Linked DNA regions of Homo sapiens: regions 1 and 2 are each linked to region 3. Evidence: fine-mapped expression QTL. A gene starts in region 3. Each other region holds a variant in brackets. All regions are shown on one strand. Distances are from middle to middle. Region 1 has its middle 14 kb from the start of EGILA. Region 2 overlaps LOC124903282 (a long non-coding RNA gene). Region 3 holds the start of RNASE6 (ribonuclease A family member 6).

Region 1 (7,792 bases), 61 kb after region 3:
TAAAACAGAGAAAAGATGAGGACCAATAGAATTTTTAGAAAGGCTTAAAGAGCAAATGAGAAAATACGCTGGCCTGGAATCAGAAGACGCTCTTGGGCAGGGAATGTTTAGAACTTCATTTCGTCACTAAGAGTTGGCCAGATATTAACAAGAAATTACAAAAGATAGAGAACTGGAAAGATAGACCTATAGAAGAGCTTCTGAGAGAAACCCAGAAAGTATATGTAAGAAGGGATGAAGAAAAACAAAAGCAGAAGGCGAAAATTCTGCTGTCCACCATACAACAAAGTACCCAGGGGGCCAGAACCTATAAAGAACCCACTCTCCAGGCAATATAAAGGGTATGAAAGAGTAAAGCCAGGAGACTCAAAGGTAGAGAGAAAAAAAAAATCTTAGAGGAGACAGAAGTGAAATATAAAAAACAATCAGCTAGTATCAAATTTATGTTAATTCTGGAAACAGGGACAAATCTATTAGAAAGAGATTTAACGCTAAAATTAGGCTTAGGTCTCCAGATCAGTCTTGGAAAATTCCTCCCCTCCCTAAACTTGCTCACCACCACAGACAAAGAACACATTCATCCCGAGGTATGGTCAAAAGACGGGAATTGAAAGTTACAGATTCCTCTGATTCATCTTAAATTAAACACCCCTGGGGAAGTAGTAAAGCGAAAGCAATACCCTATTCCTTCAAAAGCCAGGGTAAATTTGAAACCTCTGATTGAAGGTCTTGTCCGTGATGGGCTTCTTGAACCCTGCATGTCTTCCTATAACACTCCAGTACTGCCTGTAAAAAGGCAGATGGCTCATACCGGTTAGGGCAAGACCTTAGAGCTATTAATCAGATACTCCAAGCTACACACTCTGTTGTTCCCAATCCTAATACTATTATCAGTAGGATCCCATACAGCCACCAGTGGTTTACAGTAGCAGATTTTAAAATGCTGTGGTCGGGGGCGGCCGTGCGGTACGAGCGAGCGGCTCCAGGGCGGGCGCGCTCAGGGATGCTCTAGGGGGCGGCGGCGGCAGCCGTGTGGGCTGAGGCGGCGAGGACAGCGCGGGCCCCTGGGCCTCTCCCCTGAGCCGGCTGCCCCGGCAGCGCAGCCAAGGCCCCGTCAGCCTCCGCCCCTTCAGCCTCCGGGCCGAGCCCGCCGCCACCTCTGCCCGCGGAGGCCGGGGAGCCCCCGCCTGCGCCCGCAGCCTCCCCCGCGCGGGGTTCGGGCCGGGCGGGGGTCCCGAGCTGCTGCCCTCCTCGCCAGCAATCGAGCCCCATTTCCTACTTTTTCAGTTTCCTTGTGGAGGGGCCGGTGGGTCTAGATGACTTGTCTCAGGGGCCCCCGATGAGGCGACCCAGGCAGCCCTGCCCTTTTTAGAGGATCCCCTCGGGGCCCGGGGGGGAAGGGGTTATCTTTGCATGGGTAGGGGACTTCCCTAGTCTGCCGGGACCATGACCTGAACTGGGCGAGTAGGATGTGTCCAAAGCCCAAGAACCAGCTCATCTGAGCCGCCCCCTCCCCGGCCAGCATGGCATCTGAAGAAGCCCCTCTCAGAGCATTGGAAAGGCTGATGACAGAACTTTTTCACGATGGTACGACCAATGAAAGAAAACGTGAGATAGAGGAGCTTCTTAATAACATTGCCCAGCAAATAGGAGCCTGGAGATTCTTCCTGTACTTTCTCTCCAGCACTAGGAATGGCTATGTAATGATGTACAGTTTAACAGTTTTTGAGAATCTGATCAATAAAATGTGGCTTGGGGTCCCATCTCAGGATGAGATGGAAATCCACAGCTGACTGCCCAAACTCCTTTTGGCTCACCATAAAACCTTACCTTACTTTATCCAGAGCAAGTTCTGCAAAGTTATTGTTGATATTGGACGTCAGGATCGGCCCATGTTCTACCATGACTTTTTTACTAACATTTTGCAGTTGAACCAATCCCCTGTGACAACCCCCCTTGGGCCGATCATGTTGAAGACAACTTCAGAGGAGCTGGCTTGTCCCCACGAGGACCTCAGTGTGGCTTGGAAGGAGGAGTTGCAGAAGCTGCCACTGGACCAGGTGCAGACAGTGCTTGGGCTGCTGACCGCTATCTTGGGGACTGTCTGGGACAAACACAGTGTTACTGCTGCCACTCCACCACCCTCCCCGACAGGAGAAAGTGGTGACTTACTGAGTAACCTGTGGCAGAGTCCTAGTTCAGCCAAACTGTTGAATCAGCCAATTCCCATCCTTGATGTGGTGAGTGAGTATATCTGTTCCCTTGCCTTGGAGTGCCTAGCCCATCTCTTCAGTTGTATTCCTCTGTCTGCCGGCATCACCCCATCCCTCCTTACCACCACCTTCCACTTTGCGTGATTTGGCTGTGACATCCGTGCCAGAAAGATGGCGTCAGTTAACGGCAGCAGCCAGAACTGTGTCTCGGTTCAGGAGCGGAGCCGGCCGGGGGTCCTGGCCATGCCCTGCATCAGTGAACTCATTTCCAAGAGCTGTGTGCCGATGGAGTTCGAGGAGTATTTACTGCTTATGTTCCAGCAGACTTTCTACCTCCTGCAGAAGATCACCAAGGATAACAATGCCCACACAGTGAAGAGCAGGCTAGAAGAGCTCGATGAGAGCTTTATTGAGAAGTTTACTGACTTTCTTTGGCTCTTTGTGAGTGTTCACCTAAGAAGAATCGAGTCTTACTCCCAGTTCTCTGTGGTGGAGTTTTTGACACTTTTGTTCAAGTACACATTTCATCAGCCTACTCATGAAGGTTAATTCTCTTGTTTGGATACTGGACACTCTTTTTGGACTATCTGACAAATAAAATTAAAAGTCATCTTGAAGACAAGGAAGCAGTTCTCAACAGGTACGAAGATGCCCTGGTGCTCCTCCCCACAGAGGTGTTGAATCAAATCCAGTTCAGATACAACCAGGCCAGCTGGAGGAGTTGGATGACGAGACTCTGGATGACGATCAGCAGATGGAGTGACAGCGGTACTTACGGCAGAGCTTGGAGGTGGCGGTCAAAGTGATGGAGCTCCTGCCCACGCACACGTTGTCCACACTGTTCCCAGTTCTTCAGGGCAATTTAGAA[G/A]TTTATTTGGGATTACAGCAAGTTATAGTTACATCAGGGTCAGGACACAGGTTGAACATCATGGCAGAGAACGACTGCTGGTGGCTGCACTGCTCCCTGAGAGACTTGAGCTCCCTGCTGCAGGCCATGGGCCACCTGGCCGGGTACTTTATTGGGGATGTGTTTGCTGCATGGTTCAATGATGCCCTCACAGTTGTGGAGAGTTTGGTCAAAGTCACTCTGTATGGATCTCAGATAAAGTTGTACAACATTGAGCCAGGTGCGGTGGCTCACGCCTGTAATCCCAGCACTTTGGGAGGCCGAGGTGTGTGGATCACAAGGTCAGGAGACTGAGACCATCCTGGATAACATGGTGAAACCCTGTCTCTACTAAAAACACAAAAAATTAGGTGGGCACGGTGGCACGTGCCTGTAGTCCCAGCTATTCGGGAGGCTGAGGCAGGAGAATCACTTCAACCAGGGAGGGAGAGGTTGCAGTGAGCTGAGAACGTGCCACTGCACTCCAGCCTGGGCAAGAGAGCAAGACTCCGTCTCAAAAAAGAAAAAAAAAAATTGTGCAACATTGAAACTGATGTGCCATCAGTATTGAAACCTGACCTCATTGATGTACGTGCTCAGTCCCTGGCTGTGCTGCAGGCTTACACTCACTGGTTAGTGCAGTATTGCAGTGAAGCTCACCAGCAGAACACACAGCAGTTCGTGACACTCATCCCTATTACCATGAATGCAATCACACCTCTAATCAGCACCAAGTTCTCGAAGCAGCAAAGCCTACCGTCTACACCTTTTATCTAACTCTGTCTCTCCTTCTGTTCCTATACCCATTTATTAGAAAATCTAAATATGACACAGAGTTAGACCCATAAATCTTTCCGCTTTATAAAACTGTTATTTCATCTTCCTTTTTACTTGTAGCCCACATGCATTCAAATACAACTTTACTTTTTTGGTTATATAAGTTCCACATGCTCACTGTGAAAAACCAAAATATTGTTCAGATTTCCAGACTAAAAAGTTGTGATACCTTTGAAACATTTTCCTTCAGGCGGTACACACAGTTGGGCATTGGTTGTGCAGGCACACCTCGTTTTGTTGTGTTTCCCTTTATAGCACTTCGTAGATACTGTGTTTTTTACAAGTTGAAGGCTTATGGCAACCCTGCATTGAGCAAATCTGTCAGCGCCATTTTTTCAACAGCATTTAGTGCTTCCATGTGTCACATTTTGGTAATTATTAGAATATTTCAAACTTCTTCTATGACTATATCTGACAGTAATTTGTGGTTAGTGATCTTTGATGTTACTATTGTAATTATTTTGGGGTGCCACAAACTGAAGATGGCAAACTTGATTGATAAATGTGTGTGTTCTGACTGCTCCACTGATTGGCGGCTTCCCCACCTTCCTGTCTTTAGGACTCCCTATTCCCTGAGCCATTTAGTAACCCTACAATGACCTCTATGTGTTCAAGTGAAAGGAAGAGTCACATGTCTCTTACTTTAAAAATCTAGAAATGATTAAGCTTAGTGAGGAAGGCGTGTCAAAAGCTAGGATAGGCCAAATGCTGTTGAGCCAGTTAGTCAAGTTGCGAATGCAAAGGAAAAGTTCTTGAAGGAGATTAAAAGTTCTGCTCTAGTGAACACACAAGTGATAAGAAAGCAGAACAGCCTTATTGTTGTTGACACGGGGAAAATTTCAGTGGTTCGGATAGACCAAACCAGCCACAACATTCTCTTATGCCAAAGTCAAAACCAGATCAGGCCCTTCAATTCTCTGAAAGCTGAGAGAGGTGAGGAAGCTACAGAAGAAAAGTTGTAAGCCAACACAGGTTGGTTCGTGAGGTTTAAGGAAAGAAGCCATCTCCATAACATAAAAGTGCAGGATGAAGCAGCAAGTCCTGAGGAGAAGCTGCAGCAAGTTCTCCAGAAGCTCTAGATAAGATCATTGATGAAGGTGGCCACACTAAACAACAGATTTTCAGTGTAGATGAGACAGCTTTATAGTGGAAGAAGGTGCCATCTGGGACTCCCATAGCTAGAGAGGAGGAGTCAGTGCCTGGTTTCAGAGCTTCAGAGGGCAGGCCAACTCTCTTGTCAGGGGGCACCTGCCACTGGAGACTTCAGGTTGAAGCCAGTGCTCATGTATCATTTGAAAATCCTAGGGCCCTTAGGAATTATGCTGAATCTACTTTGCCTGTCTCTATAAATGGAACAACAAAGCCTGATTGACAGCACATCTGTTTACATCATGGTTTACTGAATATTTTAAGCTCATTATTGAGACCTGCTCAGAAAAAAAAGATTCCTTTCAAAATACTACTGCTGATTGGCAATGCACTTGGTTACCTAAGGCCTCTGATGGAGATGTTCAAAGATATTAATTTCCATAGTTTCCATGCCTGCTCACACAACATCCGTTCTGCAGTTCTGCAGCCCATGGATCAAGGAGTAATTTTGGCTTTCAAGTCTTATTACTTCAGAAATACATTTCATAAGACTATAGCGGTCATAGATAGTGGTTCCTCCAATGGATCTGGGCAAATAAATTGAAAATATTAATTCAAATAATGGAACTCATTTCACTGCACATATCATTAAGAAATTAGCCCAAGCACTAGACATAACGTGGGAATACCATACTCCTTGGCACCCACCTTCATCGGGAAGAGTAGAAAGAATAAATCAAACCGTGAAGAGTCACTTAACCAAATTAGTCTTAAAGACTCAGTTGCCATGGACTAAATGCCTTCCCATTGCCTTGCTAGGAATCTGAACCACCCCTCAAAAAGATGTTGGCCTATCCCCATATGAGATGCTATATGGGTTGCCCTATTTACACTCCACTGCTGACATTTCCACCTTCGAAACAAAAGATCAGTTTCTCAGACATTATATACTTGGTTTATCTTCCACTTTCTCTTCCCTTAGAACTAAAGGTCTTTTAGCACAGGCACCATCCCTGGAGTTCCCAGTACATCGAAATCAGCCCGGGGATCAAGTCCTCATCAAAAACTAGAAGGAGGAAAAGCTGGAACTGGCCTGGGAAGGACCTTATCTAGTGCTCCTAACTACTGAAAGCGCAGTCCAGACAGCAGAAAAAGGATGGACCTATCACACCCAAGTCAAGAAAGTGCCGCCCCCTCCAGAGTCGTGGGCCATAGTCCCAGGGGAAAACCCTACCAAACTAAAGCTAAGAAATTTTTTTTTTTTTTGAGACAGAGTCTTGCTCTGTTGCCCAGGCTGGAGTGCAGTGGTGCGATCTTCACTCACTGCAACCTCCACCTCCCGGGTTCGAGCAATTCTCCCGCCTCAGCCTTCCGAGTAGCTGGGATTACAGGCGTGTACCACTACGCCTGTATAATTTTTGTACTTTTAGTAGAGATGGGGTTTCACCATGTTGGCCAGGCTGGTCTTGAACTCCTGACCTCAAACGATCCACCTGTCTCGACCTCCCAAAGTGCTGGGATTACAGGCGTGAGCCAAGCTAAGAAAAATTTAACTCTCTTATTACTCCTTCTTCTTTCCTCATTCTATTGCTGACCACCTCATTATTAATGTAACAAAGTCAATTTCACCTCAAACTATTACATTTGATGCTTGCCTTGTTATACCTTGTGGAGACTTGTCAAGTTAAAGACAGCTCTCCAATTCAGAAAAGTACCTCTGTCCTTCCCGGCTCTCCTCAGACTGGACATTAGTGAATGGGGATCATTTAGTCTGGAGAGATTTCAATAAAGACCCCAGTATCAGCTGGGAGTCTTGCTCCTGCAAGACAGAGCTTTTATGCCACAGTTGGTCCAACATTCTGTGGACCACTAAAGAGCAAGGATGAGCTGCCCCAACCAGTGGTTGTAATTTCCTAAAGTCATATATTCACTTTACTAAAGGAACAGCTTCACCTAGCTGTCAGCTGAACCGTGCAATCCAATACAGGTTATTATCTCAAACCCTCAAAGCTCTTCCCCTTCTCTAAGCCGGTTCCCTTCTTTAAGCCGGTTTTATGGTGTGGGGGCTGAGGTTTCAGGAACAGACCCTATCAGATCCTTTGAAACACAATTCATTGATCCTCTGCCGCCTACACCTTCCCTTAAGCCTTCTTCCAGAAGCTCTCACAACAAAACTGTTGTTCTCCTCCATCTAATGACAAGACCAAGGTAGTTATTATAGAAGTTAAAGACCTAAAACAAACTTTGGCAATTGAGACAGAATATCAAGATGCTAATGCCTGGTTGGAGTGGATCAAACATTCCATCCACACTTTAAACAAAAGCATTTGTTATGCTTGTGCGCACGGCAGACCAGAAGCCCAGATTGTCCCCTTTCCATTAGGATAGTCCTTTAGTCTACTAGGCATGGGCTGTATGGTTACTTTTTTCCAGGATTACACAGCCTGGGGTAAAAAGTCGTGTCAAGCTCTCTCTGCTATATCCTGAGGTTCAATACCCTGCAGGTCAGCCCCCAAGGTCCACTCAGCTTCTGTCCCCTGACGCTAAGTTCACTTCATATCTCTCACTACAGGGAGGAAACTTAGCATTCCTTGGAGACCTAAAAAGATGCAGTGAGCTTAAGACTTTCCAAGAGCTTACCAATCAGTCAGCCCTTGTTCATCCCCAAGCATATGTATGGTGGTATTGTGGTGGACCTTTACTGGACTCTCTGCCAAGTAACTGGAGCAGCACTTGTGCTCTAGTTTAATTGGCTATCCCTTCCACC
Region 2 (10,552 bases), 71 kb after region 3:
TCAAAGAACAAATACGTCAGTATGTTCAGCTTCCCTGTTCTTTGTTCTCCATTTTGAAGTTTAACTTCCTTGTTCTTTACACCTCCTTGCCTCTAGTTTCAGTAAACAACCCCCTCCTAGCCTCTATCACCTGTTCTGTCCTTAGGCATCCTTACTCTCCTGTTCTGTAACTGTCCTTCCCTGATGAAACTACTCACCCCACCACTCCAGCTCATACACTCACTCTCTTTAAAATTTCCAACTGGAATTAGCTTAGACTGTGTGGTCCAACCCTAGCCAACAGGGGAAAGACACAGCAGTAGGGACTAGCTGCATTAGGAATAAGACGCCCTTCTCCTCCCTTGTCTGGTGTGCTCTCACCATTGCTCCATCTGAGAGATGCACCCTTCTATAGAAGTAAATTGCTTTGCTGAGAAAATTTTTGCCTGAGTGCTATTTTCACTCTGTGGCACCGAGCACTTACTTCCAACAGTTTGGTTACATTTTTTATCACCCAGCATGGGGCTATATGTCTCTACTGGTCTAGCGTGCCTGGTTTCCGATGGATGGAGCAATTGGCTGTGGCATCATGCCAGGGCTTACTCATTCATGCTACCAGGCAGAGCAACAACTTCTCATGAGGATTAGCTGCTCGTGGCTAGCTGACCTCCCAGCTGGGATTCTAGGGTTGTCCCAGCAGCTGCCAAGAACATCTTTTCCCTCCTTCCCCCTCTGTGGCATCAGCTGCCTGCAATGCTTTATTAGTATAAGGAAAATGATAGTTGAGGAAGTTGACAGGATTCAAGACTGGGTAAATCAAACCAGTTTGCATGCTAGAAATCCTCTGTCTCTGCCATTTGGGCTTTATGCCATTTGGACCTGACACAGGTCTTTTGCAGTATCAGTTAGCCTAAGATTTATTAACTTCCCAGTCTCCTTCTACAGGAATTGGTTCAGGAGTACTCTGTGTTGATCTGTGTGTTTGTGTTCTTTTGATCTCTCCCCTGAGAATGGGCAACTTGACTTCCATTCCATCTAAGTGGCCATTGGGCTGTATATTGGCTTATTGGAAAGCTTATAGCTATGAACTCATAACAAAAAAGATAATGATTTTTTTTCATTGTAACACTGTTTGGCCTATGTATGTGTTGGAATCTGAAAAATGGTGGCTACTGAACAGTGATTTACATTAGTACACCTTATTACAGTTGGCGTTATTTTGCCTAAGATCTGGGAAATGAAATGAGATTCCATGTGTTTAAGCATTTATTACATAACAAAGACTCAGCACATGAGGGGTCTATGTGAATGACGTAGAGAAAAGGGAAAAAGAGATTTCTCTTTCCAGATAGTAAGACCCAAAAGGAAGAGGATATTGATGATATGGGCCTCATAAATATCTTAAATTTCCCCTCCCATGTGGTACTGGGGGCACCAGCCCTCCCAGGATTACCAAATGTAGCCCAGGACCCGGAGAGGCCAAGGTGTCAGCTCCTCTCCCCAGGATGGGGAAGGAATAGAAATGGCTGCTCCACTTGCAGATTTTACTTGGGACCCCAACAATGGAGGAATGGCCCTGTCCAGTCATTATAAAAAGCATGTGTTGGCAGGGTTAAAGAGAAGAATGTAAAAGAGCTTAAATAAAGCCAGGGCAGTTCTCCCAAAGGCAGATGAGAACCCCTGTGAATTTCTGGAGTGCATTTACCAGGTTTACCACAAGTGTATGGACTATGATCCAGAAGCTCCTGAGAATATGAGAATGGTAAACGTGACTTTCATCCAATATTAAACGAAAACTGCAGAAACTGGAGGGGGTATTTGGAATAAACCTTTCCCAACTGCTGGACATTGCCTTCAGAGTATATAATGCCAGGAAGGCCAAAAAGCTAAAGCAAGCCATGATATACTTGGAATTAGTGGAAAGAATGTATATCCGAAAAGGAAAAACCAGGCACAGGGAGGTGGCCAGAACAAAACTCTAGGTAATGATCAGTCTGCCCCCTGCAAGGAGGAAGGTCATTGGAAATCTGAGTGCCCCAAATTAAAGAAAAGACAGGGAAACCAGAAGAAGGGAGACACAGTGACAGAGAAGAAACATACTGGCTGATGGTAAAGCAGGACTGTAGCTCAGATAGTGAAGGAGGCCCAAATCTTTTGGAGCAGGTTGTAATTTCCCCACAGGAACCTCAGGTACGATTGACAATGGGGAACAAATTGATTGACTTTTTAATCAATACTGGTGTGACTTATTCAGGTAGAAACACTAAAGAAACTGAAAGTACTAGGAAAACAGTGCCTGTGATGGTTGTCGCTGGCAAGATGCAGCAAACAGCCTTTCTCCAGACCCTGGAGAGTCTGGAGACTGCCGGACACAGAGATCTGGAGCTGAGACACAGTTTCCTCTATATGCTGGAATACCAAATTCCTTTGCTGGAGTGAGATTTGCTTTGTAAACTAAATTGCCATGTGACGTTTTTCTCCAGAAAAACAACAACTTCATCTGCAGGTCCTGCCAGAGCAAGCTTTGCAGCTGCAGATGCTGCTCACACACCCCGAGGAAGAAAAAGAATGCCTCCTGCCAGCAATCTGTGAGCAAGTAAGTAGTCATGAGGGCAGATGGGACCACAGGTAGTGCTGAAAATACACAGCCTGTGTGCACAGAAATAAATGAAGGGGCTAAGGTATTCCCCAAACACAGTGCCCTCTAAAAAGAGAGGCTTTAGAGGGGATACAACCTATATTACAGAAGTTTCTAAAAAATGGACAAATATGTCCTTACAGATCTCCATACAATGCCCCTATCCTGACTGTTAAAAACCCACACTCAAATGAATATTGATTTGTACAAGATTTGGGAACCATTAATGACATTGTTCAAGACATTCACCCAACTATGCCCATCCTTTACACCTTACTAACTGATAAACCAGGGCAGTATGGGTAGTTTTCGGTATTAGACTTAAAAGATACTTTTTTTTTTTTTTTTTTTTTTGCATCCTGATTGAAGAGAGGGACCAGATGCTGTTCACCTTTGAGTGGCAAGACCTGGAAACAAAAAACACCTTCCAATATTGTTAGGCTGTATTTTCTTAAGGTTTTAAAAACTCACCCACCATCTTTGGCAAAATATTGGCAAAGGGCTTCAGAGATTTTCAACTAGATGATGGGGTTCTGCTAAAATACTTGGATGACTTGTTAATCGCAAGCCAAGACTATGAGAGGTGCCTATCTAACACTATCTTAATCTTAAATTATTTGATATAATACGGACGTAACATATCACCTCAGAAAACTCAGATTTGTAAACAAGAAGTGACCTATCTTGGCTTCTGACTAAAAACAAGGAAAGCAGAGCTTGATGTCCAACCAGAAACAGGTGATAGCAGCAATAAAGGCCCCTGGGAATGGAAGACACTGTGGGGGGTTTTAGGTGTGGCAGGTTTCTGCTGAATCTGAATCCCTAATTTTGGACTCATAGTCAAACCTCTCTACAAGGCTCTAAAGGGATTAGATTCAGGAGCCCTAAACTGGATGGCTGAATGCCTTCAGGCATTTGATACCATCAAAAAAAAAAAAAAAAATAGTGTCAGCTCCAGCATTAGGACTGCCCAATTCTTGAAAGCTATTTAGACTCTATATCCATGAAAACCAGGGCACAGGACAGGAAATACTAATTCAACTACGTGGGAATTCCCCACAACCCATAGCCTACTTTCCCAAACAACTGGAGCAGATTACCAGAGGATGGCCACCTTGTCTTCAGGCCGTGGCAGCTACGTGTGATATCTTACAGGAAGCAGAAAAATTCACCCTAGGACAGCCCATTACTGCATTTGTGCCTTATCAAGTGTTAACCTTATTGTAACAAAAGGGAGGTTACTGGATGATAGCGGGGCATATGGGCAAATACCAAGCCAGCCTATTAGATAACAGAAATGTTTTCTCCAAACCACCACAGTCTTGAATCCTGCCACCTTGCTCCCAGCCACTGAGTCCAACTATGAACTGGAGCATAATTGTTTAGAAATTCTTGATGCAGTCTATTCCAGCAGACCAGATCTGTCAGATCATCTGATGGCCACTCCGGACTGGGAGCTATACACTGACTGAAGCAGTTTCACAGAAGGAGGACAACGCCAGGCCAGGTATGCTCCAGTGACCCTAGACAAAGTAGTAGAAGCCTATGTCCCCGCTGCTGGTACTTCAGCACAAAAAGCTGAATGGATTGCTCTCATCAGGGCCTTAAAACAGTCTCAAGAGAAATGGGTAAACATTTACACCTACTCCAAGTATGCCTTCTTGGTAGTGTATGCCCGTGGGGTCATTCAGAAAGAAAGGGGATTCTTAACCTCAAGAAATAAAGACATTAAACACCTGCTGGAAATTTTAGCTTTGTCAGAGGCAGTTGTTCTGCCAACTCAAGTTGCTATTATGCACTGCCAAGGCCACCAAAAGGATGACTCCCCAATAACCAAAGGGAATCAAGTGGCTGATAAAGCTGCAAAGCAGGCCACTCAAGAAACATATTTACTTGGGACCTTAATACTCCATTTAAACTTGTCAGAATTTAAACTCCACTACACTGAATGAAATGAAGAATGCACACATGAGTGGACATTGACCAACACAGACCCTTGTTCCTCATGGAAAGCTAACACTCATGGGATATTACTCTCTGAGGCCCTGGTATACCCAGTCCTGAAAGACCTGCATGAGGGGACACACTATGGCAGAGATGGACTGGCTCACCTGGTGTAGCCATATCTCAAAGGGCCACACCTTCAAAAGATCATTCAAAAGATTATACAAGCATGTTATCTAT[A/G]TACCCCAAATGATTCAAGAACTGCATGCAACTCTTCCCAGAGGAGGATACAATACAAAGGAATATGACCATTCGAGGACTGGCAGGTTGATTTCACCCAGATGCCAAAAACACTGGGATTTATAAGTACCTACTAGTGTTTGTAGACACATTTTCTGGAAAGGTTGAAGCTTACCCGAGCAAGAGATTGAAGCCTATCCGAACAAGTCTGAGAAAGCTGCAGAAGTAGCTAAGGCTCTGCTAAAAGAAATCATTCCTCGATTTGGACTTCCTTACTCCATACCAAGCAACAATAATCCTTCTTTAATTTCTGAGATCACACAAAGGATAAGCCAAGCATTACAGATCAAATGGAAATGACACTCTTGTTGGAGGCCACAATCAACTGGAAAGACTGAAAAGATGATCCACATGCTAAAAAACAAAAACAAAAACAAAAACAAAACAAAACAAACAAACAAAAAAACCAAAAAAAACCCCTGGCAAAACTCTATCGGGAAACAGATTTAAAATGGTAAAGGGTTTTACCTATTGCCCTGCTATGGATTGGGGTAGCACCCTGAAGTGGGCTTAAATTAAGCCTTTTTGAAATTGTGTGTGGGAGACCCTTCTGAAGTTCTTGGCCAGGGACCCCACCCTTGGACTTAATAAATTAATCAAGAATTAAACAATATGTACAACAACTAAGACATAAATCACTAACCCTGCACAAGTTTGTTCTTTTTGTTCTTTCCAGTTTTATGTGTCTTACAAAAAAGCCCCTTCACCCTTTTCATCCAAGGATAAAGTGCCGCTAAAATCTTGGTAAAAACAAGGACTGGACCAACAACAGCCAGCCAAAAAGTGGACAGGTCATTATGATGTTTTATTAACTACTCATTCATCTGTTAAGCTGGCTGGAGTCAAACCACGCATACATCACATTTCGGTAAAAATCGCCCCTCCCCAACCTGACACAGCAGACAATCAACCTGGTTGGACTTGTGAGCCAACTGGAGAACTGAAGCTACTGCTTAAGAAAAATCTTTTTGTACTATAGGATTAAATTTCTGTTATTCTTTATCATAATGAGTAAACTTTTTTGACATCTGCTAAAACTAGTCTATTTCTACAGTGGGCATAACATTATGCAGATAGTCTACACTAAGATGCTTGCTGGGTATGTGGATTGCTACCCATCTCTAGCACTTCTGGGCTACTTTAGTGAGTATCACCCCTGCAGGGGACTGATTAGATACATTTACAAACGTATATGAAAAACTGTTCATGGGAAAATCAGGACCTTGGTAACTTAAGGTAATATTTTTTAAAAATGGCCTGGCATTAATATAACGCTTCAGAATCCAGATCCTGGAAAACTCTTCATTATAACCGGACTATCCAAAGGACCTCTGAGTATGCAATCCCTCTCTTAAAGGAGTTTTCCTAGATGGCCCCCAAGATTTTGGCTACTAATAACCATTACACGGTAGGTGAGTTTTTATCAAATTTGGGACGATTACCTCTGGATGATCTCCACTATTAGTCACTTAACCCAAATTGCCACTTCATGTTGGGAACAAAGGAATCACTCTTAGAATCATTGGCCGAATGTTACTAAAAATGTGGATAGGATGCCTCTACATCAATATGAACATTCTTTAGTGCTATATTAGACAAACCTGTTTACCACTGATTGGACACAGACCCAAAATTTGGTGGCTGGTCCCCAGTGGAACTCAATAGTTATGTGAAACTAATCTTCGGCCATGTCTACCTGATGGATGGATAGGGCAGTGCACGTTAGGACCCCCATAGGTCCGGGGCTGATTAACAAAAACCACCAGGCAGCCTGCACACTTTCCAGATGTGTTACACCAATGGACCAGGCCGGTTTTCCCTTCCTACGACCATCTCCTGTCCCTTGTTTTCCCCCAAGCAGGCTTAGAAAGCATCATCTGGCATATTGAGGCACTTACAAATTATAGCAAGTGCTGAAAGACACATTTAAGGGCATCTCATTAGTAACCTCTGAAATGACTATGATGGGAAAAGTAGTCTTGCAAAACCACATGGCCCTTGATGTACTCACAGCTGCTGGGAGGGACCTTGACCCATAATTGAAACTAAATGTTTTGTGTATATCCTAGGTAATTTGCGAAACATCTCCTTAGCCCTTCAAGACGTGCACAGACAAATCAATGCTATGTCTGACCCCACAATGTTCCTAAACCAGTGGTTATCTTCATGGTTTGGATACGGACCTACTTGGTGGAAAAAACTGCTAGTAGTTCCAGCTATGATTATAGGAATAGGTATATTCTCTATGGGTTATACTCTTGTTGCACCATATGTGTGATATTGCAAGATTGTGTTTTCCTTAATTGGAAAGGCTCCTAACTCCCAGGTCAATGATGCTGTAAAAAATCACTTCCATAAGTCAAGGAATGCATGAATACTTCCAACTCCAGGTAAATAAATTCCATTCTTCAGCTCCCTAGTGATGCCCTCATTCAGCAGGAAGTAGCTAGAAAGAAATTGACACCTGATCTCCCATAGAAATGAAACAGGAATTGGCAGTGGGGAGTTTGTAGCTGGAATAATCAGCCTGCTTCAATAATGAATAGCCTCACCCTTTGATTTATTCAGTATCTAGCCGTATCCTTGCTTAAGAAACCCAGGGGCTAATCTTGAAATAAACCGGGCATGAATTTGAGATTGTGGAATCCTACATTCTCAGAAAAATCACTGAGGGGGGTTAATCCATAAGCTAGTTGCAGTCATGGTGATGCCAGCCAGACCTCCAGGTGATCCGTTACTGAAGATAGCCATCAGAGTAAGACATGCAAACCTGCACCCTGCACCACTCCTGCTCATAGTTTCCATGCCTCCTACTTCTTAAAATCCCTTTAGCTAGCCTAAAATTTTGAAATAGTCTTTGAGGCGCTAGTCCACCATCTCCTCAGGTTGCTAGCTCTTGAATAAACCTGCTTTTCCTGCACCAACTCTTGTCTTGCAAGTCTTGCTTTTGAGCAGTGAGCAGTGATCAGCTGACCCTTAGTTTGGTTACACTATCACTCAGGAAATTCCAAGCATTTTAGAAGGTCTGTGGCAGGAACCAGGAACTAAGTTCAAATTTATTTTTTATTATACCACAGGTCCCAACTCCCATGACTACCTGGATGGTGACAAAGACGAATTATCTCTTCATCCTTCTTTCTCACTCTAAATATACACAGACATGCTATTAGGAGGGAAAACTTTCCCTCTACCAACTTTGGTTCAGTGGGTGGGAGCCTGTGAATTAACTATAGACAGGTTAGCAGGGGGAAAGAAAACAAGTTGTATTCATAACTTGTGGAAGCATTCAGATGAAGAGGCTTGATGAAGAGCTAGAGACAGAAGTTTAGTTATCAACTCATAGGGGAAAAGAAGGAGGGAGAAATGACTTCTATAGGAAAACAAATGACTTTTGGGAAAGACAAATAGAAGCTTTGGATAAAGTTTTACACAATTTTCTTGGAATATCTCCTGTCTGGGTGAAGTAATCCTCACACGGTTAACAAGAATCCTGGACAAAAATATAATTATGAGTAAGTGTTAATCAGGCTACACTTTGACCCACTTCCTTGTAACCAAAACTCACGAACACTAGCTACTGATAATTTGCATTCTCATTGTTCCCATAGATAAGATCTTTGACATTAGAATCATAAGGCTTTTGTTTAAGAATTGTTTATGCAGATCCTGAATTCCGGCAGAACAGCTGACACCACCAACTTTAAAGAGCCCAACTGATGAACTGATCAGCATGAGAATACTGTTTTTTCATCTCTCTGTCCCATGACTTCACTCTGCATTCTTCAACCAATTAGTGATCTCTTATTTCCACCTACTCCAAATCCTTAAAAACAACAGCCTCAAACTCTTTGAGGAAATGGATTTGAGGTTTCCTTCCATCTTTTGGTTCAGCAGCCCTGCAATTAAACCTCTTTCTCTGCTGCAACCCAGTGTCTTGGCATATTGACATGCTGTGCACATCAGGCAAAAGACCTATTACCATTACATGAGGACCCCTCCGGAGGGAGATAATGGTGGGGGCATTTCTGGGAGGCTCTGCTTTAGTCAGGTGAGAGAAGTTCAGGTAAGATTTCTTTCTGTATCTGCTGTAATTCAAATGTTTTCAGTTTTGTCAGTTTTGCCCTTAAACATGTGCACACACACACACACACACACACACACACACACTCACACTTCCCTTCTTAAGCAGCTAGCATCTTCATATATCTCTGCTCCTGTCATGTGCGTCCATGTGAAGAGACCACCAAACAGGCTTTGTGTGAGCTATAAAGCTTTTTAATCACCTGGGTGCAGGCAGACTGAGTCCGAAAAAGGAGTCAGCAAAGGGAGATGGGGTGGGGCAGTTTTATAAGATTTGGGTAGGTAGTGGAAAATTACAGTCAAAGTGGGTTATTCTCTTGCAGGCAGGGGCAGGGGTTACAAGGTGCTCAGTGGGGAGGTTCTGAGACTCATTGTCTAGGAGAAGGAATGTCACAAGGTTAATTGATCAGTTAAGGTGGGGCAGGAACAAATCACAATGGTGGAATGTCATCAGTTAAGGCAGGAACTGGCTATTTTCACTTCTTTTGTGGTTCTTCAGTTGCTTCAGGCCATCTGGATGTATACTTGCAGGCTTGGGCTCAGAGGTCTGACATTTCCTGTCTTCTTATATTAATAAGAAAAACAAAACAAAATAGTGGTGAGGTGTTGGAGCGGCAAAAATTTTGGGGGGTGGTATGGAGAGATAATGGGCAATGTTTCTCAGGGCTGCTTCAAGTGGGATTAGGGGCAGCATGGGAACCTAGGGTGGGAGAGATTAAACTGAAGAAAGATTTGGGCATCAAGGGTGATATTGTGGGGTTGTTAGAAGGAGCATTTGTCATACAGAATGATTGATGATGGCCTGAATGCAGTTTTGTATGAATTGAGAAACTGATCAGAAGACACAAGGTCTAAATAAGAGAAGGAGAAAAGCATGTATTAAAGGACTAAAAATTGGGAGGGCTCAGGACATCCAATTAGAGAGTGCCTAAGGGGGTTCAGCATAATTATTTGCTTGGTTGGTGAGTTTTTGGGCGCTATCCTTGAGTTTTTTTTATGTTGTCATATACTAGGCCAGAGTGATTTTGGTAGAAACAACACTCTTCATTTAAAAATATACAGAGTCCCCCTTTTTCAGCAGTGAGTAAGTCAAGGGCATATTCCTGTCTTCTTATATTAATAATAAGAAAAACAAAACAAAATAGTAGTGAAGTGTTGGTGTCATGAGGGGAACAGGAAGCTCTTGGGTCCCATTTGCAAGTTGATTTTTGGGGGTAAGGAAAACTAGTGTGCATGTGCCTGTCTAATTAACAGGTAGACACATGTAGGGGAGGAGCCACAGGGGAAGAAGAGACCTTGTGTAAGGCGAAACTGGAAATGTAAAGTGAAAAGATGAGAAAGAGAAAAACTGGCCATGAGGGACAGAAGTTGAAACGCCAGCTGCTTGTTTAGCTACCTTATTAGCATAAGCATTGCCCTGAGTGATGGGATCTGATGCCTTTTGTTGGCCTTTACAGTGAATGGCCTCAGTTTTCTTGGAAGTAGAGCAGCTTTAAGAAGAGGTTTTATTAAGGAGGCATTAATGATGGAGGACCCTTGTGTAGTGAGGAAACTTCTTTCTGCCCATATAACAGCATGGTGGTGAAGGATGTGGAAGGCATACCTGGAATT
Region 3 (10,552 bases):
AAGGAAGGGTTGAGGGTGGGAGAAAGCCCCAAAGGAGAGAAAGAGAATAGGATCCCATGCGGATCTCAGGCCAGGCACTACCAGCCTGGGCTGACTGCAGCCACTGATGAGAGACTTAGAAAATGTTGAGAAGGGTATTCCAAGATGCAACGGGGTGCCTGAGGAACAGGCGAGGCCAGAGACCCCATTTGGCCAGCCTTAAGGGCAGTTCTCTCTAAGCCTCTCTTCTGCATGGTCCACAAGAAAGGCTCCTGGAAGCTATTTTTTGCAATGTGATTCTGTCCGATGGTCATGTCTGATCTATGGATGGGATCAGTCAGAATCCCTTCAAAAATAAATAATATTTCAGAGAAAATTAGAAAGTGAGATGGAAAGGGATGACTGTCTACTTACTGTGTGAAAAAGAAAAGCAGAGGAAATGAGTACATTGCAGAAAAAGACTGAAACAGGGCACAGAAAGGAATATTAAGAATTCATTACGGTCGGGCGCGGTGGCTCACTCCTGGAATCCCAGCACTTTGGAAGGTCGAGGCGGGCGGATCACGAGGTCAGGAGATCGAGACGATCCTGGCCAACATGGTGAAACCCGGTCCCTACTAAAAATACAAAAAATTAGCCGGGCGTGGTGGCGGGCGCCTGTAGTCCCAGCTACTGGGGAGGCTGAGGCAGGAGAATGGCGGGAACCCGGGAGGCGGAGCTTGCAGTGAGCCCAGATCGCGCCACTGCACTCCAGCCTGGGCGACAGAGCGAGACTCCGTCTCAAAAAAAAAAAAAAAAAAAAAAAAAAAAAAAAAAATCATTACTTTCCTGAGGCCCCAGTTCAAAATTCTCAGCCTGCCAGGTGTCGTCCTTCCTACTGAATTCCAGCCACCTGCCTCAGCCACAGCCAAAGGACAAGATCCATTGAATAGTCTAGAAGACCAGGAATCAACACACTTTGTTCTATAAAGGACCAGACAGTAAATATTTCACTTTTGTGGAACACATAGGGTCTGTGTCACTTCCTCTCCTTCTTCTTCCTCTTCTTCCCCTTCCTTCCCCTCCCTCACGTCTCTACTCCTTCCTTCTTCCTGTTCTTCCCCCCCTCCTCTTCCTCCTCCTTTTTCTTCTCCCCCTAAAAAAGTAAAAATCGGCCAAGCACGGTGGCTCACGCCTGTAATCCCAGCACTTTGGGAGGCCGAGGCGGGTGGATCACGAAGTCAGGAGATCAAGACCACGGTGAAACCCCGTCTCTACTAAAAATACAGAAAATTAGCCGGGCGTGGTGGCGGGCGCCTGTAGTCCCAGATACTCGGGAGGCTGAGGCAGGAGAATGGCGTGAACCCGGCAGGCAGAGCTTGCAGTGAACTGAGATCGCGCCACTGCACTCCAACCTGGGCGACAGAATGAGACTCCGTCTCAAAAAACAAACAAACAAACAAACAAACAAACAAACAAATTAGCTGGGCGTGGTGGCGGGTAATCCCAGCTACTCAGGCGGCTGAGGCAGGAGAATCGCTTGAATCCAGGAGGTGGAGGTTGCAGTGAGCCGAGATCCAGCCATTGCACTCCAGCCTGGGCGGCAGAGCCAAACTCCATCTCAAAAAAAAAAATAAAAGTAAAAACCACACTACTCCAGGCAGTATAAAATAGGCGCGGCAGGCCAGAGGTCTGCAGATGTAGTTTGCTTACCCCTGCATCAACAGTTGTTACCAATATTTGCTGCCCATTACAATTACATGGGGATCTTTAACAAACATCCATTAGAGCCCAGGTCTCACCCCCAGATATTCATTTAATTGTTCATTAAATGTTCATAAAATTTATTTAGTAGATCCCGTCATTGGTATTTTTCTAAAAGCTCCCAGGTGAATCTAATATGAAGCCAGAGTTGAGAGCTGCTAGAACATCTGCTGAATTCACTTCTAAGCTTTGCCTGCTTTGGGATCATTCTGTATATTCTAGGGATATATCTAAGTGAACTTCTTAGCAATTATGTATTGAACTTCTGCAATACATAACTGCATGTAGAAAAGAAAATAAATCTATGAGAGATTCCATCCCAGTCTATTCCACTTGTTTAGAACTAATACCTTCTAAAAGTTTGGGCATAATAGATTGTTGAAAAGTTACCCTCATTGTTGCCTTTTCCTTGATCAGCAACAAAAAGTGACTCTAATTGTTGTTGGGGATAGGTTTGTCATGGGAGGGTGGGGAAGATTAGATATTGTTGCTGCAAATCTCTTCAAAAGATGGCACTCATTATATTTTTGTTTTTAACCATTTGTTACAAAATATTTGCAGTATTTTAGACCTCACAATTTATTTCACTAATTTTAAGTAACATTTCATGTTCCCTAATGTTTCTGACAGTTGAAAAATTTTTGCAGCACAGATGTATTCAATCCATGAGATACCTTTACTATATAAATAACAATAGCATGAGCAATTGAGTTGTTTGGTTTTACTAGATTACCTTTAAGAATCTCTGGCAATTTCCAGGTAATGTTCATATAAATCCATTCAACCCCTTTCCTTTCAGATGCTGCTACTTTCGTATACTTGTTCATACCAAACGTGAGCACAGATTCTCCCTGCCATTCCACCACACTTTACATGAAGACTCTGAGACAATAAAATGTAAATGCAACATGGCTTAAAGCTGAATACAACTGAAAGCTGCTTTGAGTTAGAGCACTCAAGTCCCACTGTAGGATTCCCTCTATAAGGTACCCACCTTCTTAGGTGCCATATTGCCCTGACCTGCTAATCTCTTCCCAATGGGAGGGCCCTTGATCAGTCATCACCCTGGAATCCAGGCTCCTGAAACCTCATATTCCATTCTTTGTTCCTAAGATATGACATAAATGTGTAGCGTAAAGGAAGGTGAGCTGAGTTAGCATATCTATTAAACTAATAGTCTGGCTTGGAAAGAATCATTTGCAGCACAGGTAATGAAGACACTACAATATGTAGCCTTTTCAAAAAAACTTCATTGTCTTTGGCTGCTACTTGAAGACTCATCACTGTACAAAGCACTTGGGATTTACACTGGCCCACTAGCCCAATGACTCTAGAGGTTGACAAGGAAACTGAAGTTCCTTCTGTGAAATGGCTTAGTTCAGGTTCTGTTCCAAAACCCCAATACTTCTGTGGTATTTCAGTATTTACATAGGACTAGAATGTTTTTAGTTTCCTAGTGCTTTTTTCTCTTTCTTTCTTTCCTTTTTTTTTTTTTTTTTTTGAGACGGGAGTTTCGCTCTGTCACCCAGGCTGGAGTGCAGTGGTGCAATCTCGGCTCACTACAGCCTCTGCCTCCCAGGTTCAAGCGATTCTCTTGCCTCAGGCTCCTGATTAGCTGGGATTACAGGCTCCTGCCATCATGTCTGGCTAATTTTTTGTATTTTTAGTAGAGATGGGGTTTCACCACATTGGCCAGGCTGGTCTCAAACTCTTGGCCTCAAGTCGTCTGCCTGCCTCGGCCTCCCAAAGTGCTGGGATTACTGGTGTGAGCCACTGCATTGGGTCTCCTGGTGCTTTTCTCTTTTTCTTTTTTTGTTTTTGAGATGGGAGTCTCACTCTGTTGCCCAGGCTGGAGTGCAGTGACACAATATTTGCTCACTGCAACTTCTACCTCCTGGGTTCAAGCGATTCTCCTGCCTCAGCCTCCCGAGTAGCTGGGATTACAGGCACTGCCACCACGCCCAGCTACTTTTTTTGTATCTTTAGTAGAGATAGCGTTTCACCATGTTGGCCAGGCTGGTCTTGAACTCCTGACCTCAGACGATCCACCTGCCTCAGCCTCCTAAAGTGCTGGGATTACAGGCGTGAGCCACCACGACAAGCCTAGTGCTTTTTTCTTGATCTATGCTTTCTATTTATCCATTTCAATAAATAATGGAGGATTGACCCTAAGGTTACTACAATGGATTATTATCCCTATTACTACTACTATCACCTTATATTTAAAACATTATCTGATTAAAAACGGAAACAAATAGAAAAGACATAGGATCCTTCAGTTGCCAGTGACAGAATCTATGTGTGAGTTATCATCAACTGTCTTTGAGGTATCAGTACTACCTCCAATTAAGCATAGACAATGGTTTCCAGGGGAATATATAAAGTCATGAGCAGAGTTTGAAGAAATGCTCCAAAGTCCCAAACGCTGTCCTTTCTTGTGGGCAAGGAAGTGGGGCCCCAGGGAGGCCTCAAAAGTTTTCTAGGGACTTAAAGTCAAAACAGTGTTCCTCTGAGTACCGGTCAACAATGCTTTGAAAGCGGATCTCAAACACACACTCATTAGAATGCAGCAGGAAGTGGTTTTATTGCTGTGAACACAGGGCAATAAAGCTTGGCAAAAGTTGCAGGGTTAGAAATCTGAATCTTTCTTTGCTGTCTTCCCTATTCCCTTCTCTCGAAAAGTACAGAACTACAAAGCAGAAAATAATCTTATTTCTTTTTGTCTCAACTCTGGTCTGGCATCCTAGGCACTCGAATTCTCCAAACACCTTTCTTCTTTCTTCTACGGGAACAAGAAAATCAACAAAAGAAAAGAAAACATGGATGCAATTGTAACAGAAGCTATGTCAAATGAAAGGAAATGCAGTGGATGCCTTAGAGAATACTATCTAAGTGTACAGGAACCAACTTGTAGGGGGGATCGCTCTTCTGAGGGGGGTCACAGGCAACAATGAAGAATTTGTACTGGGCAGCAGCACTATAGCGGCACTGGGGATACTTTCCTGAAGTGAGTCTGCAGTCAGTCATGTTGACAGGCTTTGAGCTCTGGTGGCAGTTGTGCCGACGATTTTTGCAGACAATGCTGAGCAAATCACAGACAGCAGCCACATTCTGGAAAGAGTCATGCAGAAAGGTATTTTGATGCTTACAGTGCTGGGTATAATTGTTGATGCCACTCATTGCCCTGTTGCATTGGAGAGGACTTGGCTGTATATGCTGAATTTCAAACCAGTGAGCCTTGGTGAGACGCTTAGGCCAAGCATGAAGTGGACACACTGGTCCCCATAGAACCAGCAGCAGTAAAAGAAGAGGAAAGCATAGCACCATCTTTTCTGTGTAGAAAGAGAGAAGATAGTTATAGTAGGAGAAGCAATAAGAGCAAAATTTTTAATCATAACTATTTAGATTTTTATTTTGCCTTTTAAGATTTTACAGCTCCCTTTAAAATCTTCTTTCTCACATAGTCTCACAATTCTATGAAGAACCTGAAGCCCAGGAAACAGAAATATGACCTCTCCTTTGATTGGCATATCCCATTTTCTTTCACAAGTACTCATGCATTTGATGGCTGTCATATCAGAAAGTTTCTTCCCTCTTCCCTCCTGAAATATTTACCCTCTATCTGACCACTACCTCCCAGCCGTCTTTACTGCTCTACTCGCTCCAGCCCTGAGGCTTTCTTTCTTACCTGGTCTCAGTGTTGGGGCTCCTGCTGAGAACAGAGGCTGTGATTAGTCCAAAGCTCAGAAGCTGTTGTCTGCCTTTCTTCTCTAACCCTTCGAGCCCTGTGTGTATAGGGAAGGGGAAGAAATATTCTGAGCTTTCAGAAGGAGAATCCTAGGGTTTGGCAGATTAACTTCTTGTGCAGAGTCTGGATTAAACTCTTAGACTTTCACACCTGTTCTTTAAAACAGTATCATTATCACATGTATACAGGAAGGCTAAACCAACTTAAAGAAACAACATGACTGAAAACTCACAGTTTTGAGGAACTGATCACTTCCTGATATGGAATGAGTGCTTCCTGCCTCATCTGAGGCTTCAGTGTTTTTTTTTGAAGCTTTATGATTCCTGTTTCTTAAGAGAAAATATGTCACATAAATATGATATAATGCCTGCCACATACTTGGTAATGTTGTAAGTTCCTACAACAGAAGTGAATACATTATTCATTTATGCATATACTTATTGGGCCAGGTACTAGGCTACACAAATTCAGGAGCTCATGAGTTTTTTTTTTTTTTTTTTTTGAGACGGAGTCTTGCTCTGTCGCCCAGGCTGGAGTGCAGTGGTGCGATCTTTGCTCACTGCAAGCTCCACCTCCTGGGTTCATGCCATTCTCCTGCCTCAGCCTCCCGAGTAGCTGGGACTACAGGTGCCTGCCATCACGCCCAGCTAATTTTTTTGTATTTTTAGTAGAGACGGGGTTTCACTGTGTTAGCCAGGATGGTCTCTATCTCCTGACCTCGTGATCTGCCAGGAGCTCATGATTTAATGAAAGAGATTAGAGACAGGCAGGTAAGTATATAGACAAGTAGATTATATTAATATAAATAGCACTTACAGTGTGATGGAGGACACTGCAGGAGGCTACGGGAAGATAGTAGAGGGGAAGGATTGTTGGAGGGCACAACACCTGAACTGAATTTTGAGGAATAATTAGAAGTTAGGTGAAGAGAGTGTTAAGCGCCTCCCAAAGACAGAATTGTGTATGAAAAGACCTGTAAGCCTGAAGAAGAAGGCCGAATTTAGGATATTTGCCTCTTGAATCTGTTCTTACCTTTTCACTGGTACTGCAACACCCTTATTCAGAAACTCATTGTCTTATGGAGGGCTCACATAAAAGCCTCCCACATGGACTCCTTGCCTTGTTTTTTTCTCCTTCCAATCCATTCTACATATTACTTCCAGATTAGTCTTTTTTTGAACAAGATATAATAGTACAACACTCTTGCCCCATGCTTTTATGGCTCCAAATGTCTGCAGAATAAACATAATGTCTGTTTATAGCAAGGTTGCAGGATACAAGGTTAATATACAAAAGTCAGTTGCTTTCTTATATACCAGCAATGAACAATTGCAATTTGATATTTAAAACACAATACCATTTATATTGCACCAAAGAAAGTGAAATACTTAGGTGTAAATCTAATACATTATGTAAAAATTGGTATGAGGAAAAATTTAAAACTCTAATGAAAGAAATTGAGGAAGCACAGATATTCCATGTACATGAGTAGGAATACTCAATATGTTAAGATGTCATTTCCTCTCAACTTGATCTATAGATTCAGCACAATCTCAATCAATATCCCAGCACATTATTTTGTGGATAGTGACAAACTGACTCTGAAGTTTATATAAAAGTAAAAGATTCAGGTTGGACACGGTGGCTCACGCCTGTAATCCCAGCACTTTGGGAGGCCGAGGCAGGCTGATCACGAGGTCAAGAGATCAAGACCATCCTGGCTAACACAGTGAAACCCCGTTTCTACTAAAAATACAAAAAATTAGCCAGGCCTGGTGGCGGGCGCCTATAGTACCAGCTACTTGGGAGGCTGAGGCACGAGAATCGCTTGAACCCGGGAGGTGGAGCTTGCAGTGAGCCGAGATCGCACCACTGCACTCCAGCCTGGGTGACAGAGCGAGACTCTGTCTCAAAAAAAAAAAAGATTCAGAATAGTCAACACAATGCAGAAAAAGAAGAACAAAGTCAGAAAACTGACGTGACCCAACTTCAAAACTTACTATAAAGCTACAGCAATTAAGACAGTGTGTTATTGGTGAAAAATAGACAAATAGGTCAATGGAACCAAGTAGAAAGCCCAGAGGTAGACCCACACAAATACAGTGAACTAATCTGTGACAAAGGATCAATTTTCAATTGAGAAAAGTTAGTCTTTTCAACAAATGGTAGTAGAACTGAATGTACACATGCAAAAAATAAATCTTTTCATAGGTTAGACTTCATACATTTTCATAGACCTGTACTTTATATCTTTCACAATTTTTTTTTGAGATGGAGTTTCGCTTTTGTTGCCCAGGCTGGAGTGCAATGGCATGATCTTAGCTCACCACAACCTCTGCCGCTCAGGTTCAAGTGATTCTCCTGCCTCAGCCTCCGGAGTAGTTGGGATTACAGGCATGCACCACTACACCCAGCTAATTTTGTATTTTTAGTAGAGACAGGGTTTCACCATGTTGGTGAGGCTGGCCTCGAACTCCTGACCTCAGGTGATCCGCCCACCTCGGCCTCCCAAAGTGCTGGGATTACAGGCGTGAGCCACCGCGCCTGGCACAAATGTTAATTCAAAATGGACCATAGACCTAATGCAAAATACAAAACTACAAAAATTCTAGAAAATAACATAGAAGAAAATCTAGGCAGCCTTGAGTTTGGCAATGATTTTTTAGATACAATACCAAAAGCACAATCCATGAAAGAAAAATATTGATAAGTGGAACTTCATTAAAATTGAAAACTTCTGCTCTGCAACAGATACTATTAAGAGAATAAAAAGATAAGCCAGAGACTGAGAGAAGATATTTGCAAAAGATATATCTGATAAAAGAACATTATCCAAAATATACAAAGAACTCAAAAAACCTCAACCATAAGAAAACCAACAACCTAGTTGAAAAATGGGCAAAACATCTGAATGGTATGGGGCAAAGACAATTTTTCCTCTCCCTCTGAAGGTTCAAAACTTCTGAAATGAACTGACAATAGACAGATTAACAGGAGAAAAAGGCATACAAATTTATTACTGTGCATAATCATGGGAACCATACAAATTATGAGACTCAAAGAAAGACTAAATAGTTGAAATTCATGTATTCTCTTCATAGGGGAGAGGAACATGGGGAAAATGTAGGCAATTTTGAGGAGTTTTAAATATTTTTTAGGGAACTGGCCCCAAATAGCAGACAATAGTTTGTAAATGAGTCTCTTTGGAAGCTGAATGGAAGGGTGACGAGTTATGGGAAGGTGAAGGGTGGAACTGCACTATGAACAAAGGTTGCCTTATTATACAGATAAAGTCTCTTAGGTACTCTTTTGGAGCTGCTCTTGGAAGAATAGATGAAAGGTCTATCTGAGTGTGGTGTGAAGAGACTTCTAGTCTCTTCTTTTTTTCAGGTGGCTAATATTTCCTGGTTATCTGATGAGATTTTTAGAAAGGGGGGTCTTAAGACAATTGCATTTCTTGGAAGAAGTTTTCCTTATCCAGACAAGGGAACTTCCAGAGAGAGCTCCTCTCTGCATTTGAGAGCTGGGGGAGGAATGAGAGAAGATTAGAACATCTTTGGTCCTGAGGCAGCTTCTAAGAAGTTTTGGTTTCTTTAATTCTTTAATTCTAGTTAAATTTAATTCTTTAATTTAATTTCTTTAATTCAAAAGTGCTCAGAATGCCATGCATCATAGTTTGTAGTATGATTCTCTGTACCCCAACACTTCACCAAACAAGATATACAGATGGCAGATGAGCAATGAAAAGATGTTCAGCATCACATTGTTTGGAGAAAAACTTTTCCTCTATCATTTTAGGTTTTAAAGGTGGTGGTAAAGGAGCTTGTGAATTAGAAAAAGATTAATAGGAGAAAATTCAAAGTTTATTTACACATGCACACAGGAGTATTACATAATGCGTAACTTGCTGAATAGCCAGAGGTAAAGTTATATATCAACTTTAAAAAAAGTGTTTTTGGCCAAGTGCAGTGGCTCATGCCTGTAATCCTAACATTCTGGGAGACTGAGGCAGGAGGATCACTTGAGGCATGGAGTTTGAAACCAACAGCATAGCAAGACCCCCATCTCTATTTTTTAAAAAAAGATTTGGCCGGGCATGGTGGCTCACACCTGTAATCCCAGCACTTTGGGAGGCCAATGTGGGCAGATCACCTGAGGTCAGGAGTTTGAGACCATCCTGGCCAACATGGTAAAACCCCGTCTCTACTAAAAATACAAAATTTAGTCAGGCATGGTGGTGGGCACCTGTAATCCCAGCTACTCGGGAGGCCGAGGCAGGAGAATCTCTTGAACCTGGCAGGCGGAGGTTGCAGTGAGACAAGGTTGCGCCACTGCACTCCAGCCTGGGCAACAAGAGTGAAAGTCTGTCTCAAAAATAAAATAAAATAAAAAATAAAAGATTTTTGTTGGGGCTTCAAAAGGAAAATATGGAAGGTTCTAGTAAGCTTTCTGATGCTAATAGAAATGGGTAGATTGATTTCTTCCTGGCTGGAAGTTTCCCTGTATGGGGGTTTATGGAAGCTAATTTACACATCCCAGTGCTAAGGGGCTGTCTCGTTTCAAACAGGAAAATACCTTTGAAGGGGATCAATGGCAGCTGAATTTTCAAGAGGCTCTGGTTAAGTTTAAATAGTGTTTCTTTCTGCAGCTTCTGTCTGTTCAGACATTTTCAGTTTAAAATAATTTTCATGCCACTATCATCATAACAGATTTGTTACTTGATGCACAACAAATGGATATATTAAGAAAACAGGGATTGAAAAAGAGAGAGTTTAATTTTCATAGGGCAGCCAAATGAGTAGATGGGAGGTAACCTACAATTTGGTTTTGGGTTTGGGGATAGGGTTTTTAAGGAGTCTGGACAAGGGCCAAAATGTGAGCATTTCTGATTCATCAAGAAGTGAGAGGTGAAGTCATGGGACAGGGACATGAAGAAACTCAGCATTCATGTGCCAAGCCAGTTCCTTGGTAGGGGTCTTTAGACTGGTTAGCATTAGCTGTTGCACTGGAATTCAGGATCAGAAAAACACCTTAAGCAATTCTTAAGCAAAAAGATTTCATGATTCTAGTATTGGAGATTCT

Evidence for each region. PIP is the estimated chance that this variant, and not a neighbour inherited with it, causes the effect.
Region 1: its variant is fine-mapped to the expression of RNASE6 in whole blood (TOPMed, PIP above 0.99).
Region 2: its variant is fine-mapped to the expression of RNASE6 in whole blood (TOPMed, PIP above 0.99). The same link has a PIP of 0.9 or more in blood mononuclear cells and monocytes.

Annotation. Positions count from the first base shown.
Region 1 is chr14:20,716,860-20,724,651 of GRCh38, reverse strand. It overlaps the pseudogene RANBP20P. Among named protein-coding and RNA genes, the nearest start is that of EGILA, 14 kb to the right of the region's middle. The variant G/A (reference allele first, on the strand shown) is at 3,082.
Region 2 is chr14:20,705,104-20,715,655 of GRCh38, reverse strand. It overlaps LOC124903282 (a long non-coding RNA gene), which reads left to right. Exons shown (of 2, transcript XR_007064061.1): 1 at 1-2,575; 2 at 3,938-5,863. It overlaps EGILA (EGFR interacting lncRNA), which reads left to right and starts at 8,715. Exons shown (of 4, transcript NR_174964.1): 1 at 8,715-8,909. The variant A/G (reference allele first, on the strand shown) is at 4,802.
Region 3 is chr14:20,776,197-20,786,748 of GRCh38, reverse strand. It overlaps RNASE6 (ribonuclease A family member 6), which reads right to left and starts at 5,481. Exons shown (of 2, transcript NM_005615.5): 1 at 5,411-5,481; 2 at 4,282-5,054. The coding sequence starts at 5,049. The coding sequence ends at 4,597. The region is part of intron 1 of LOC107984671 (a long non-coding RNA gene); the gene reads left to right. RefSeq lists an enhancer at 4,337-4,406.